Homo sapiens: one gene and its partners. The protein of the gene in region 3 purifies or fractionates together with the protein of the main gene of each other region. This does not show direct contact. Each region holds a gene or a part of one and is shown on either strand. Other genes may lie near its edges.

Region 1 (3,647 bases), on a different chromosome or scaffold from region 3:
GTAACACAAGCAAAACTTACAGGTCGTTCAACAAGGTCATCTCGGCGGGTGATTTCTACCGGAAAAGCATTTCCTCGGTATCTGACATTGTACCAATGAGCCTGCAAAACACACAGTGTGCTAACTAGAGTTCTACATCCAGGAAAGTCTATTCTTCTGTGGATTCACCCATAATGATCATCTCCTGGCTGTTAGGAAATTCATGTGAGCAGCGACCCAACCCTGCCCCACTCACCACGTGGATCTTCAGGTCAATGGAGAGGCGGATGTGGTAGGGAACATCGTACTCGCGCATGTCCACAATGTTGTCCAACTGGTCAGCTATCTTCTTAGAGGTTTCCTCTTCATCAGTAATGACACCGCCCCTCTGCAGAACACTAGGAATTAACAAGAGAGCAACTAACTCAGCTGCCAGGGTCTGGAGGAGGTGAGACCAGAGTTCCAACTCAGTAGGAAGAGGTGAGACCAGAGTTCAAACCGAGGAAACACAAAAGGTAAATTGATGTGGTTTCAACGACCAAGGCAGTCCTTCCTTTAAGAATGGCTTGGACTGGGCCAGGCGTGGCAGCTCACGCCTGTAATCCCAGCACTTTGGGAGGCCAAGGAAGGCGGATCACCCGAGGTCAGGAGTTCGAGACGAGCCTGGCCAACACGACGAAACCTCATCTCTACTAAAAATACAAAAATTAGCCAGGCGTGGTGGCGCATGTCTGTAACCCCAGATACCTGGGAGGCTGAGGCAGGAGAATCACTTGAACCCAGGAGGCGGAGGTTGCAGTGAACCCAGATTGCGCCACTGCACTCCAGCCTGGGCAACAGAGCGAGACTCCATCTCAAAAAAATAAAGAATAGCTTGGATGATAACTCTACAGACAGGAGAAAATTCAGTGTAAGATGTATTCATTTTATATGATGTGAGTTACACCCCAACTAGAAAAAAAAAAAGAGGGCCAAGCATGGTGGCTTATGCCTCTAATCCCAGCACTCTGGGAGGCAGGAGGATCGCTTCGGCCCAGGAGTTCAAGACAGGCCTGGGCAACATAGGGAGACTCATCTCTACAAAAGTAATAATAATAATAATAATAATTAGCCAGGCATGGGGTACACACCTGTGATCCCAGTTACTCAGGAGGCTGAGGTGAAAGGATCGCTTGAGCCCAGGAGTTCGAGGCCACAGTGAGCTATGATTGCACCACTGCACTCCAGCCTGGGCAACAGAGCAAGACCCTGTCTCAAAACAAATAAGTAAATAGAAGAAAAAAGAAAGAAAACATTAAGTGCTGCCAGTCAGGAGAGCCAGGCATGACCATCCCACCATGGTCCTGATACTCAGGAGGCTGCCTCATGCAGGCTGAAGAGCAGGCCTGGGCTTCACACAGCCTGTGCATGGGTCTCTGCCATGTCTAAAGAAGTGGCCCACCATTGCGGCCACTATTGGCCTATAAGCTCAAATACTGAACGGGCTATTCAGGGGGAAAAAGACAGACGAGTCTCAGATATGGCTCAAGTCTCTGAGGACTCAGTCTCTGATCACACCTTCCAATATTTCAAAAAGCAACTTGTGGCATTGCCAGGGAAGGCGGACTCCGGGTAGGGACTGTAGAAATGTTCAGCATCCCAAACTGATCCTCTTTTGTCAGAGGGTAAGGTAGGTTCTTCCGAAGTCATCTAAACTTCATTACTCAAGATTTTCTCTTCCTAACTGGTTACTTTGCATCCTATTATTGTTGATGCTCAAATACTTGAAGAACAGTGTTTAGTGTTCTAGGCTTAAATTTCTGTGGACGATACCCAAGGTTCTCTGGAGATGTGCTGTGTAAATCTCAGCACTTAATGAAATTCATAGATGGATTGTGTTAGGGCAGTAGGATGAGGGATCTTTTCCCCTCTAAGGTGACTTTACTATTACAACCACTCAATTTTAGAGCCATAAACCCACCCCTCCATTGGAAAAGAGAGCTAACACATAAAATATAACCTGGGAAGCCACTGTTTATTTAACACAGAACATACAGAAATCTCTACCTAATTGCTCAAGTTTTCCGTATCAAACAGAGCCAGCCATTAAGGTAACTTTGTTGCTACGTGTTCCTGTCTCCTATCCATCTTGTCGTTCTGAACCGCTGATGCTTTGCTCACAAGACCAAAGTTTACCTGGAAAGCAGAGCTGTGTACGCGTCGCTGGCGTGATCCTGCTCCCTGTTCTTCTTCACGGCAGGGGAGATCTCCTTCCTCACTTTGACAAGATCCTCCACAGTGTGGAAGGACAGCCTGATGTAATTTCGCTTCAAACCCACCAAGTGATTTGGCTATAATGCGAAGAGATCACGCTCATTGGTTCAAGAGAAATAGGACTTTATGGGTGAGAGGGTAAACACTCAAAGGTAAACACACAAGTCAAAGAGTTGGCGACTTCAAGGCACCTTGTCCAACTCTGCACGTGGCACCAACTAACACCACTAGAGCTCTTTGGAAGGAATTTTATAGACGGTCACCACACCGCCCCATCACCCAACAGATGACCTGAATTTCTACCTCTTCCGATCCCACCTGCCAGGAACAATGTAGACTCTGGCCTCATTTACCCCTGGAAAGTCTGGGTGATACTCACCAAGTCCAGATCCTCTTTGGGGACAGTCTCCACTTTTGCAATTTTGCCCTGAAACTTCTTGGAGAGAAAAGATGAAACTTCTCGCTCACAACCCTAATCAGGATCAGAATGAAAAGGCTTTCCATTGGTAAAATACATTTCCTTCCTTGCCTATTTCCCAGTTGCAAAGCCCACCACAGAATGACACACAGGTCGTCTGACCTGAGTCTATGAAACACACTCACCTTTCTGGTCGCAATGTAGAAATACGGTTTATAGGGCAAAGCCACCTGTTAAGAGTCACCAACCCATCCAGGGGTGATGAGAAAGAAGAAAGCGAGAGAAAAGTGAAAACACATTGCTTGCTCCTATATCCCATGAACAGCCTAGGGCCAGGGTAGCCTTGACCTTGGTAGCATACAGGAAGTCAGAATGCGCACTTTTCACAGGGGCAAGAATCTGAAAGACACGCTACTTCTCACCATTCAGAGTCTTCCTGAACTGACCTCTCTCAGGACATCTTACGTGATGACTGATGGGGCCTCCAGGGGCCCGAGTTCTGCTGGGCTATGGGCTGCTGTGCACTGGAAGCCTCCCATGCCCTCCCTGACAGTCACAGAGCTACATGAACACCCATAAAAGTGGGTTTTAGCTTGTCGCAGTCAGGGGCTTACCTTAAATCTGCTTCCGTCATCTTGAATAAAGTAGTAATCCACTGCACTGCCTAAGCGCTTATCTTCATCTAAAATCTCGGTCTACAAGAGAATCAGTCAACACAGACACAAGACCATCCTCTACACAGTTAGAGAAACTTTCCTCCTACCTTTCGGGAAACTCAGCACTTTAGAAACAAACCCTCTCATCTAGGTCTTTACTCCACCCCTACATTAACACTACCAGCCTTATTCACAAGAACCACACTGTAACGGCCTCCAAATGGGGATCTCTCTCAATTTCTCCCTCATAATCCTTGAAAGCTTTATTCTGATGGCTAAAAGAGATGCCCATCACCTCCGGCTTCTCACAGTGGCCTCTCTGTGGCCCTCAATGACGTTAA
Region 2 (3,647 bases), on a different chromosome or scaffold from region 3:
GGAGCCGACCTGCACTCGGGCCACGTGTGTCTGGACAGCCCGGAATAGAGTTCCGCCTGCTGGCCCGGCCCTCCCGCACAGGCCAGCTTCGCTAGGACCCAGCGCACTGCCTGGATTCTGCCCGCTCGTCCATGCCTCCCTTGCCCTCCACAAGGGCCAGCTTCGCTAGGACTGAGCGCACTGCCTGGTGCAGGCCATCAAGGACTCCCTTCCATGCAGCCAAAGACCCCACTGCCTCGGACACGGAGCTGCCCCAAGGCAGGTCCTCACGCCCCACCCCAGAGCCCGTGCTGATGGGCCCCCAGGAGGCTCTGCAGCACGAGAAAGCCCGAGCTCTGCTCCCAACAAAGGCAGGAGAGTGGGCACCACCAGCGCTAGCACTGGCCGTGTGCAAATGAGTGTCCAGCCCTTCTGACAATAGGGATTGACTAAAACAAACACCAAAACCAGGACCAAGAAGAATCCAGAATACCAAATGCCCACCACGAGCCCCTTGCACACCACCCGGAATATCTGTGAGCTGCACGCAGACGTGCGGGGGACTGGGAGCAGCCCTGCCACAGCCTGAGGCTGAGCCAGATGGGGGACATGCAGCTCCCCGCCTCCCACTCCCTAACGCATGTGCACCGGTGACTAGGGACTTGGTGGACACACCGCAGGGTCCCCTATGTGGAACGAACCCTCGGGGTCGCTCTGGAGACTCGCAAAGGCTGGCAATGGCCAACCTCAACTGGGCTCTTCCAACTCTGAAATTTTTTTTTTTTTTTGAGACGGAGTCTCGCTCTGTCGCCCACGCTGGAGTGCAGTGGCGCGATCTCGGCTCACTGCAAGCTCCGCCTCTTGGGTTCAAGCCATTCTTCTGCCTGAGCCTCCTGAGTAGCTGGGACTACAGGCACCGGCCGCCACCACGCCCGGCTAATTTTTTTTTGCATTTTTAGTAAAGACGGGGTTTCACCGTGTTAGCCGGGATGGTCTCGATCTCCTGACCTTGTGATCCACCCGCCTCGGCCTCCCAAAGTGCTGGGATTACAGGCGTCAGCCACCGCGCCCGGCCCCAACTCTGAAATTTTAATCCCCGAACAAAGTGAGTTTCCTTTGTAAAAGGGGGATTTTCTTGGAGATAAGGGAAAAAAATTTCATCTTTCTACCAAGAAGAACCATTTCTACTTGTCAGCACTATGCACGCGCAGGATGGCACACGGGGGCTGCCCCCAGCAGGGAAAGGGCTGCCAGAGACTCCTCTGCTCAGCCTAACCAGGACAGCAGGGCCAACCCGGCCATCTCCAGGCAGCATGGCCCTCAACAGTGGTGTGACCTCCCAAGAGTAGGTGACAGGCGGAGGCCAGCAGCACCAGCACCACCTCCATCTCTGCGGGGAGTCAGGAGGCACTGCGTACCCCCAGCCTTCACAGGAAGACCCACGGCACCTGCTCAGGGAGTGAGCAGAACCCAAGGACAGGGCACTCGCCTTCAGGGCGTTGATGACCGTCTCGATGTGCGTCTTGACAGCCTCATGGGAGAACTCAGAGCTGGCCAGCGTGCACATGCTCTCCAGGGCCAGGTAGCGCAGGTTGGTCTCGCGGTGCTGCAGAAACTGGCCCAACTGGTTGCAGGCACGGACGAGCAGGTTCGGCTCACTGTGTGGAGGGAGGGGAAGTGGGTGGGGTTTCCTCAGCAAGTGCAACACAAACTGGACAGAGTCTGCGTTCCCCGACGGGTCCAGATGGCAGACAGCAAAGTCACACGGCACTCACCGCCACCACACTGCTCAAGTGGGAACTCGGGGGCCTCCCCAGATGCAGATGACGCCCGACCCCCACCCCTGACATCCATTTTGTGTCCATCCTGTGCATCCCCACAGTGAGTCAGCAGCCCGTGTGTCCACTGGAGCCTTCCCAGCACCTCCTGAGCCTCAATCTGCATCAGGCCCGCGGGAGGCCGGTCAAGCTGTGACCGGCAATGGGGTCTCAGCCAGAGGCACCAGCCCAGGGCAGGGAGAAGGCCGAGAAGGCCGGGAGCGCGGCTGCTGCCCCACTGACTCTACTGTCTCCTCAGGATGTGGCTTCTCCTCACATAACAACAGAGCTTTCTCCAAAATGGGAAATTTCAGTTTTAATAACTCTCAGTTCTGAAGTGTGACTCTCAGACTGAGTTTTCATCATTTGTAAAAATGCTGTAGTAGCAAATGGGTGGTGTTCACAAGCTGTAGAGAGCGTCTGCCCACAGCCTGGCACGTGCCCTCATTATTGGGAGCCTGGTGAGAACTGCGATCTCATTCTCACAGGACCCTAAAGCATGGCCCCACACGCAAGACCCACGCCAGACCACATGTGGTGCGCCGCAACTGCTGAGCAGAGAAGGCGTGGGAGCAGAGGAGGCAGACCCTCCAGGCTGTGTGGAGCGACCGCCACCCTGCGCCTCTGCGCTTCGTGGATGGGCACAGACGTTTCCAGCACTGCCCTGCGACCCTGGACCCACCAAGTGCGGCTCCACATCCAGCAAAGCCACGGGACATGCGCGCACACCCCCCACCCCACCCGTCTCCTCTCTGTTCCACTACATGAGAAGCCAGTCAGGAGTGGGGATGCTCAGGGGAAGGAGGAAAAGGCCCTCGTGTGGGATGAGACCACAGTCACCAAAGCAATCCACGGTGAGCTCAGAGCAGGAGGGGCCGGGCTGCACAGAAAGAAAAAAAGCATCCGGCAGGGAGCACAGAGGCAGGACGAAGGGGAGGCCCATGGAGTGGACAAACCAGACATGATCCGCCCAGTCTCGTGCCAACGAGAAGGAACGTGTGTGTGTGCGCGAGACGAAGCCTCTCCACAGGCAGCCGACACACCTGTCATGGTGAATGATTAAGCTGATGGCCTCGAAGAGCACGGCATTCTTCGCGTTGGAGTGCTGGACCTTCTTCGACTTGGGCGGTTCTTGGGCTTTGTTCAGGATGGTCTCCAGGCACTCAGTCAGGCGGCCTCGCACTGCAGGGTCTTCTGGGCAAGACAGAACGGTGCTCACCAGTCTCCAGTGGCCCGCAGCCCACCCTGCCCCTCCCGGCTGCACCCATACATCATGAGAGCATTTTTAATATAGTTCATTCACATTTGTGTACCCAGCTGGAAGCATTTACAAAACTGAGACAGGCCGGGCACGGTGGCTCACTTCTGTAATCCCAGCACTTTGGGAGGCCGAGGCAGGCCAGTCACCTGAGGTCAGGAGTTCAAGAACAGACTGGCCAACATGGTGAAACCCCGTCTCTACAAAAACGCAAAAGTTAGCCGGGTATGATGGCAGGTGCCTGTAATCCCAGCTACTCAGGAAGATGAGGTGGGAGAATCGCTTGAACCCGGGAGGCAGAGGTTGCAGTGAGCTGAGGTCGCGTCACTGCACTCCAGCCTGGGCAACAAAGGGAGACTCCATCTCAAAAAGAAAACCTGCACAAATCTGATACTATAAAAGCACAAATAGACCCAAACACTAACAAAACTGTAGGCTCTGCAATAACTGCTCCACGAAAGCCAGCGCATACAGCAGCACTGGCAGAAAGGTCCATGAATCAAGAGACAGGGCTAGTAACACACTTCTTAAAATAACAAACAAACCACTTAAATCTGAGACAGGGAATCAGACTGGCACTGGTGCAGCTTCAG
Region 3 (3,747 bases):
GTGGAAATACAATTTTTAAGTCTTTTTAATGAAGCAAAGAAACGTGTATCCAGTTCCATATGCTGCTTTACACTGACGAACTGGATGTCAGGGAGGAAGGGGTGAGAGAGAGAGAAAACACGAGCGCTTGAGCCACTGACCTGCCCATTGTTATTTGAAGCTCCTTTGTTGTTCGTAAGTTTTAATTTTCCAAAAGAGATTTCTTGGCGCATCCAGTGAGCCCCAGTGTTGGGGGAATCCGGATGCATATAGACCCGATTTCCTAGAGAAAGAAATACATTGTTTACATATGCCCCTGGCACTGCCCAGTCCCAGCTCCTCACCACGTAGGACACACACACACACACACACACACACACACACACATACACACACCTTACTCCACCATGAAGCCCATTAACTGGGGCTTTTTTAGGCCATTCTTTCTTCCTATTAACTGGGGGTGATTAAAATAGCTTTTGCATAATCCTCCCCCTTCTCGCAGCTCAGTCTGTCCCCCTGTCCCCCTCGTTTCCTTTTAGAAGTCATTGGCCGATCGTTTTAAAAGTCGCTCGAGCCAGTCCACAAAGGCTTTAATTAATCATTCTCACCTAAATAAGTGTCAAGAAAATGTGTTAATTGGAAGGACTTGCCTTGCACATTGGTGTCCGCTTTGCCGCAAGGAACCCATTTGCCTCCTTGAAACCTCCAGTGATTGGGATCCGCCAAAATCACATCCACAAAAATATTGTAATGAGCCGTGGGATCGAGACCAGAAATGTTAAAACTTAAAAAAGGAAACATGCGCCTATTTAAATTAAGGGGTGGGGGGAGAAAACAAGGAAAAAAGAAACATAAATGTTAAAGATTAAATGCAAGAAGCGGGGCGCCAGTTAGCAAAGCAAAACTTGTACTTGCAGCAAATAGGCGAATATTTGCTGGATTAGAAAAAGGGTGGTGGGAGAAGAAAAGAAGTGCAACCCAAATCAGGGAGAGCGGCGGGTGAGCTGGAGTGGGAAGGTGGCAGTTATCACTGCCCAGGTGGAGAGCGAGGTTGGCGACCTGCGTCTCCACCTGTCCGTGCATGCCAGTGTTGATGCGTCCCTCCCATCGCCCAGCCGCTGGCCAGGGCTCTTCCTTTTTCTTGCCTTCCTCTGGCCACTGACTGGCTCTCCCACTATGTTCCTAGAACGGGGTCCCCCCCACCAACATCACCCTGGCGGTTATCCCTTCCACTTTCCCCCTTTCCAAAACTAGCCAACTCTAGGGCGCCTTCCACTCCGCTCCCGACCCCAAATCGTCGCTGCCGCGGCAGTCACAGCCTAGGTGCACTTGTCCCCGGCTGCGCCTAGAGCAGCGGCAGCCAAAAATGTAGTATTACCTTCCCTGTTTGGTGATGATCATCTCCGTTTGGTGCCGGTGAAATTTCAGCCAAAGGGGCCTGTTGCACAGGTACACCTGTGCTTTGCCGGGCACCAGCCCCGGCTGGGTGGAGGAGAACTGGTAGAACGGAGCTCCTTGGTAGGAGTGGCCGTACTGCTGTGGGTAGGGGTAGCCGGCCGTGGGGTATCCCTGCGGCGAGGAGTTGGACAGGAGGCTGTTGTAGGCTCCGTTGGTGATGACCGGGTGGTGGGCCATGTAGCGGCTAGGGCTGCCGATGGAGAAGGCGGGGTGCGCCGGTCCGTGCTGGCCGGGGTACGGGAACATGGCACTGGGAGCAGTGGCCGCAGACTGTGGCTGGCTGGACTGAGAGAGGAGGTAGCGATCTGCAGCAGAGCCATCGAAACTGTGACGAAGCTCAGAGACCCCGTCCAAGACAGGAGAGAGTTTACTTCTCTGGACGTCCCCTGGTGAGTCCTTGGAGTCAGGAAAATTGTCTGTATCTGACTGATTCGTCATCCCCCTGGTAATTTTTTTCAAAGGTGAACTTCTCTCCAGGTTGTCAGTGGTCGAGATAATGGGATGATCGTGCAAGACAAGCTCGGATCCGCCTGAATGTGGGTAGCTGCTGCTCACATTGAGAAATTTCTTGGAGAGCATGATAGAAGGAGAAAGGCAGTGCTCCAGCTGCATAGCTCTAGAACCTGAACACTCGCCCTCCCGTCCCTGGTTTTTAAAGTCCTATTTATCATAAACTAGAAATCCACAGACCCCCTCACTAGACAGAAAGCACTTCAACCAGCAAATGCTTCTCAAAGGTTTGATTTACTTTTTTTTTTCCCTGGGAGAAGAGATTGGCCAATTGACACTATGCAGCAATCAGAAAAGGCTCACTTTTGATCTTGCTGCTTGTGCAGCCGATGAAACGGCTCCTGCCATTGGTTAGCTGCTGACAGTAATTTAATTAGATAGACATTAATTAGGATAATCACCTGGCTCCTGGTAGCGACGATCATGGCAAATTGAAGGGGATGATTTTATTGTTGGCTTGGGGGGTGGGGAATGTGTGTTGGTTTACGTGAGCACTGTTGTGTCACCTTTAAGCTCTGTGACCACTGCTTTAGGAAGATTCAAAGATGTGGAATTTACTAAACATTTCCTACCTTCCCCCCCTTCCCCCCTTTAGAGCGGAGGGGCGGAGGAGGGAATTCGACGATGCTAGGAGACTTTTCGGATCTGAATGAGCCAAATATTCAGTTGAATGTAACGATTTCAAGTGCAAAGTATACAAAGCGCGAGCCGGTGGCCTCTTCTCGCCCTGTAAAAGTTCCAGAGTCTGTCTTTTCCAGCTAATACAAAAGCACACAACACCTGAGCTGGTGCTTTGTGAGCAGATCCTACATGTCCTCGGCGCCCCCACCCCCACCTTTTAAACTGCAAACATAAATAAATAAATCCCTGCTGCTGAGAGCCACAGCGACAAGCAGAAGGGGGGAGGAGAGGGGGCGAAAAGCAGCAACTCACCCACCAATCCACCCACCTCAGGAAGGTTCGGTTTCTTGGTTGAGTACAGAAACAGTGACAATCTATGATCTCCTTTTTAAGTTTTGAAATAATCATAAGCTGTCGGGCTGAAATGCCTTAATGTATTTGCAGTGATGTTTACCGGCTCTTTATTAAATATTTTATCAGCGCACTTGGTTGCAGATTATCTGAAGAACATCTAACTGGGGGCAGGCGCCATGCATCCTTCTCGTCCCTCTGCATTTCCTTCTCTCTGAGGTACTGGCTTGGCGACAGGTTCAAAAGCCTCGCCAGGAAAAGAGAGGGCCGAGTCCCCGTGCAAATGGGCTCGTCAGAAGCGCTGATCTGGGGAGACAGAGTGGAAGTGGTGTCAACACAGTAATCGCTACTGAAAACGTGTGTGTGTGTGTACGTGTGTGTGTTTAATGTTTATATAATCTGGAGGGGAGAAAAAGCATCCATGCCAATAATTTTTAAAAGGAAAAAGAATCTAAAGAGGAATAGAAAAAAACCAATTTAAAAAGATGTTGGCACAAATAAATAGCACGAGGCCCGAAGAGACCCCGAGGTGTAGGGAGGAAGTCTCCCAGCACCGGCTCTACAGAGGAGCCCAGCCCTCGGCCTGAGCCAGAGGGCCAAGAGCGGCAGAGGCTTTTTATCTGCCCAAAGCTGCCTCCCGCGGCCCGGCGCTCGCTGACCTGCCCTCCCGCGGCTTTCCTCCCGGACGCCGAGCCGCGCGGGAATGAGCAGGAGGAGCGCCGCCCAGAGCTCCGCTCGGCCCCGAGAGCTGGCCGGCCCGAGGGCGGGCTCCGCCCGGGAGACTGAAGGAGCAAGGGGTGAGCTGCGTCTGGCGCAGACCCCAGG

Evidence for each region.
Region 1: the proteins of TBR1 (region 3) and POLE purify together in Homo sapiens (affinity purification with mass spectrometry, with the first as the bait; one large-scale study listed by BioGRID). This does not show direct contact.
Region 2: the proteins of TBR1 (region 3) and AP2A2 purify together in Homo sapiens (affinity purification with mass spectrometry, with the first as the bait; one large-scale study listed by BioGRID). This does not show direct contact.

The regions. Positions count from the first base shown.
Region 1 is NC_000012.12:132,677,343-132,680,989, forward strand, and holds part of POLE (DNA polymerase epsilon catalytic subunit A), read right to left. Parts: intron 3,346-3,647; coding exon 3,265-3,345; intron 2,881-3,264; coding exon 2,836-2,880; intron 2,705-2,835; coding exon 2,612-2,704; intron 2,310-2,611; coding exon 2,155-2,309; intron 378-2,154; coding exon 236-377; intron 102-235; coding exon 21-101; intron 1-20. UniProt on the Homo sapiens protein: Catalytic component of the DNA polymerase epsilon complex. Participates in chromosomal DNA replication.
Region 2 is NC_000011.10:984,775-988,421, reverse strand, and holds part of AP2A2 (AP-2 complex subunit alpha-2), read right to left. Parts: intron 2,991-3,647; coding exon of another isoform or gene 2,988-2,990; coding exon 2,840-2,987; intron 1,638-2,839; coding exon 1,469-1,637; intron 1-1,468. UniProt on the Homo sapiens protein: Component of the adaptor protein complex 2 (AP-2). Adaptor protein complexes function in protein transport via transport vesicles in different membrane traffic pathways.
Region 3 is NC_000002.12:161,414,716-161,418,462, reverse strand, and holds the start of TBR1 (T-box brain protein 1), read right to left. Parts: upstream 2,167-3,747; 5' UTR 2,053-2,166; coding exon 1,361-2,052; intron 788-1,360; coding exon 633-787; intron 263-632; coding exon 141-262; intron 1-140. UniProt on the Homo sapiens protein: Transcriptional repressor involved in multiple aspects of cortical development, including neuronal migration, laminar and areal identity, and axonal projection.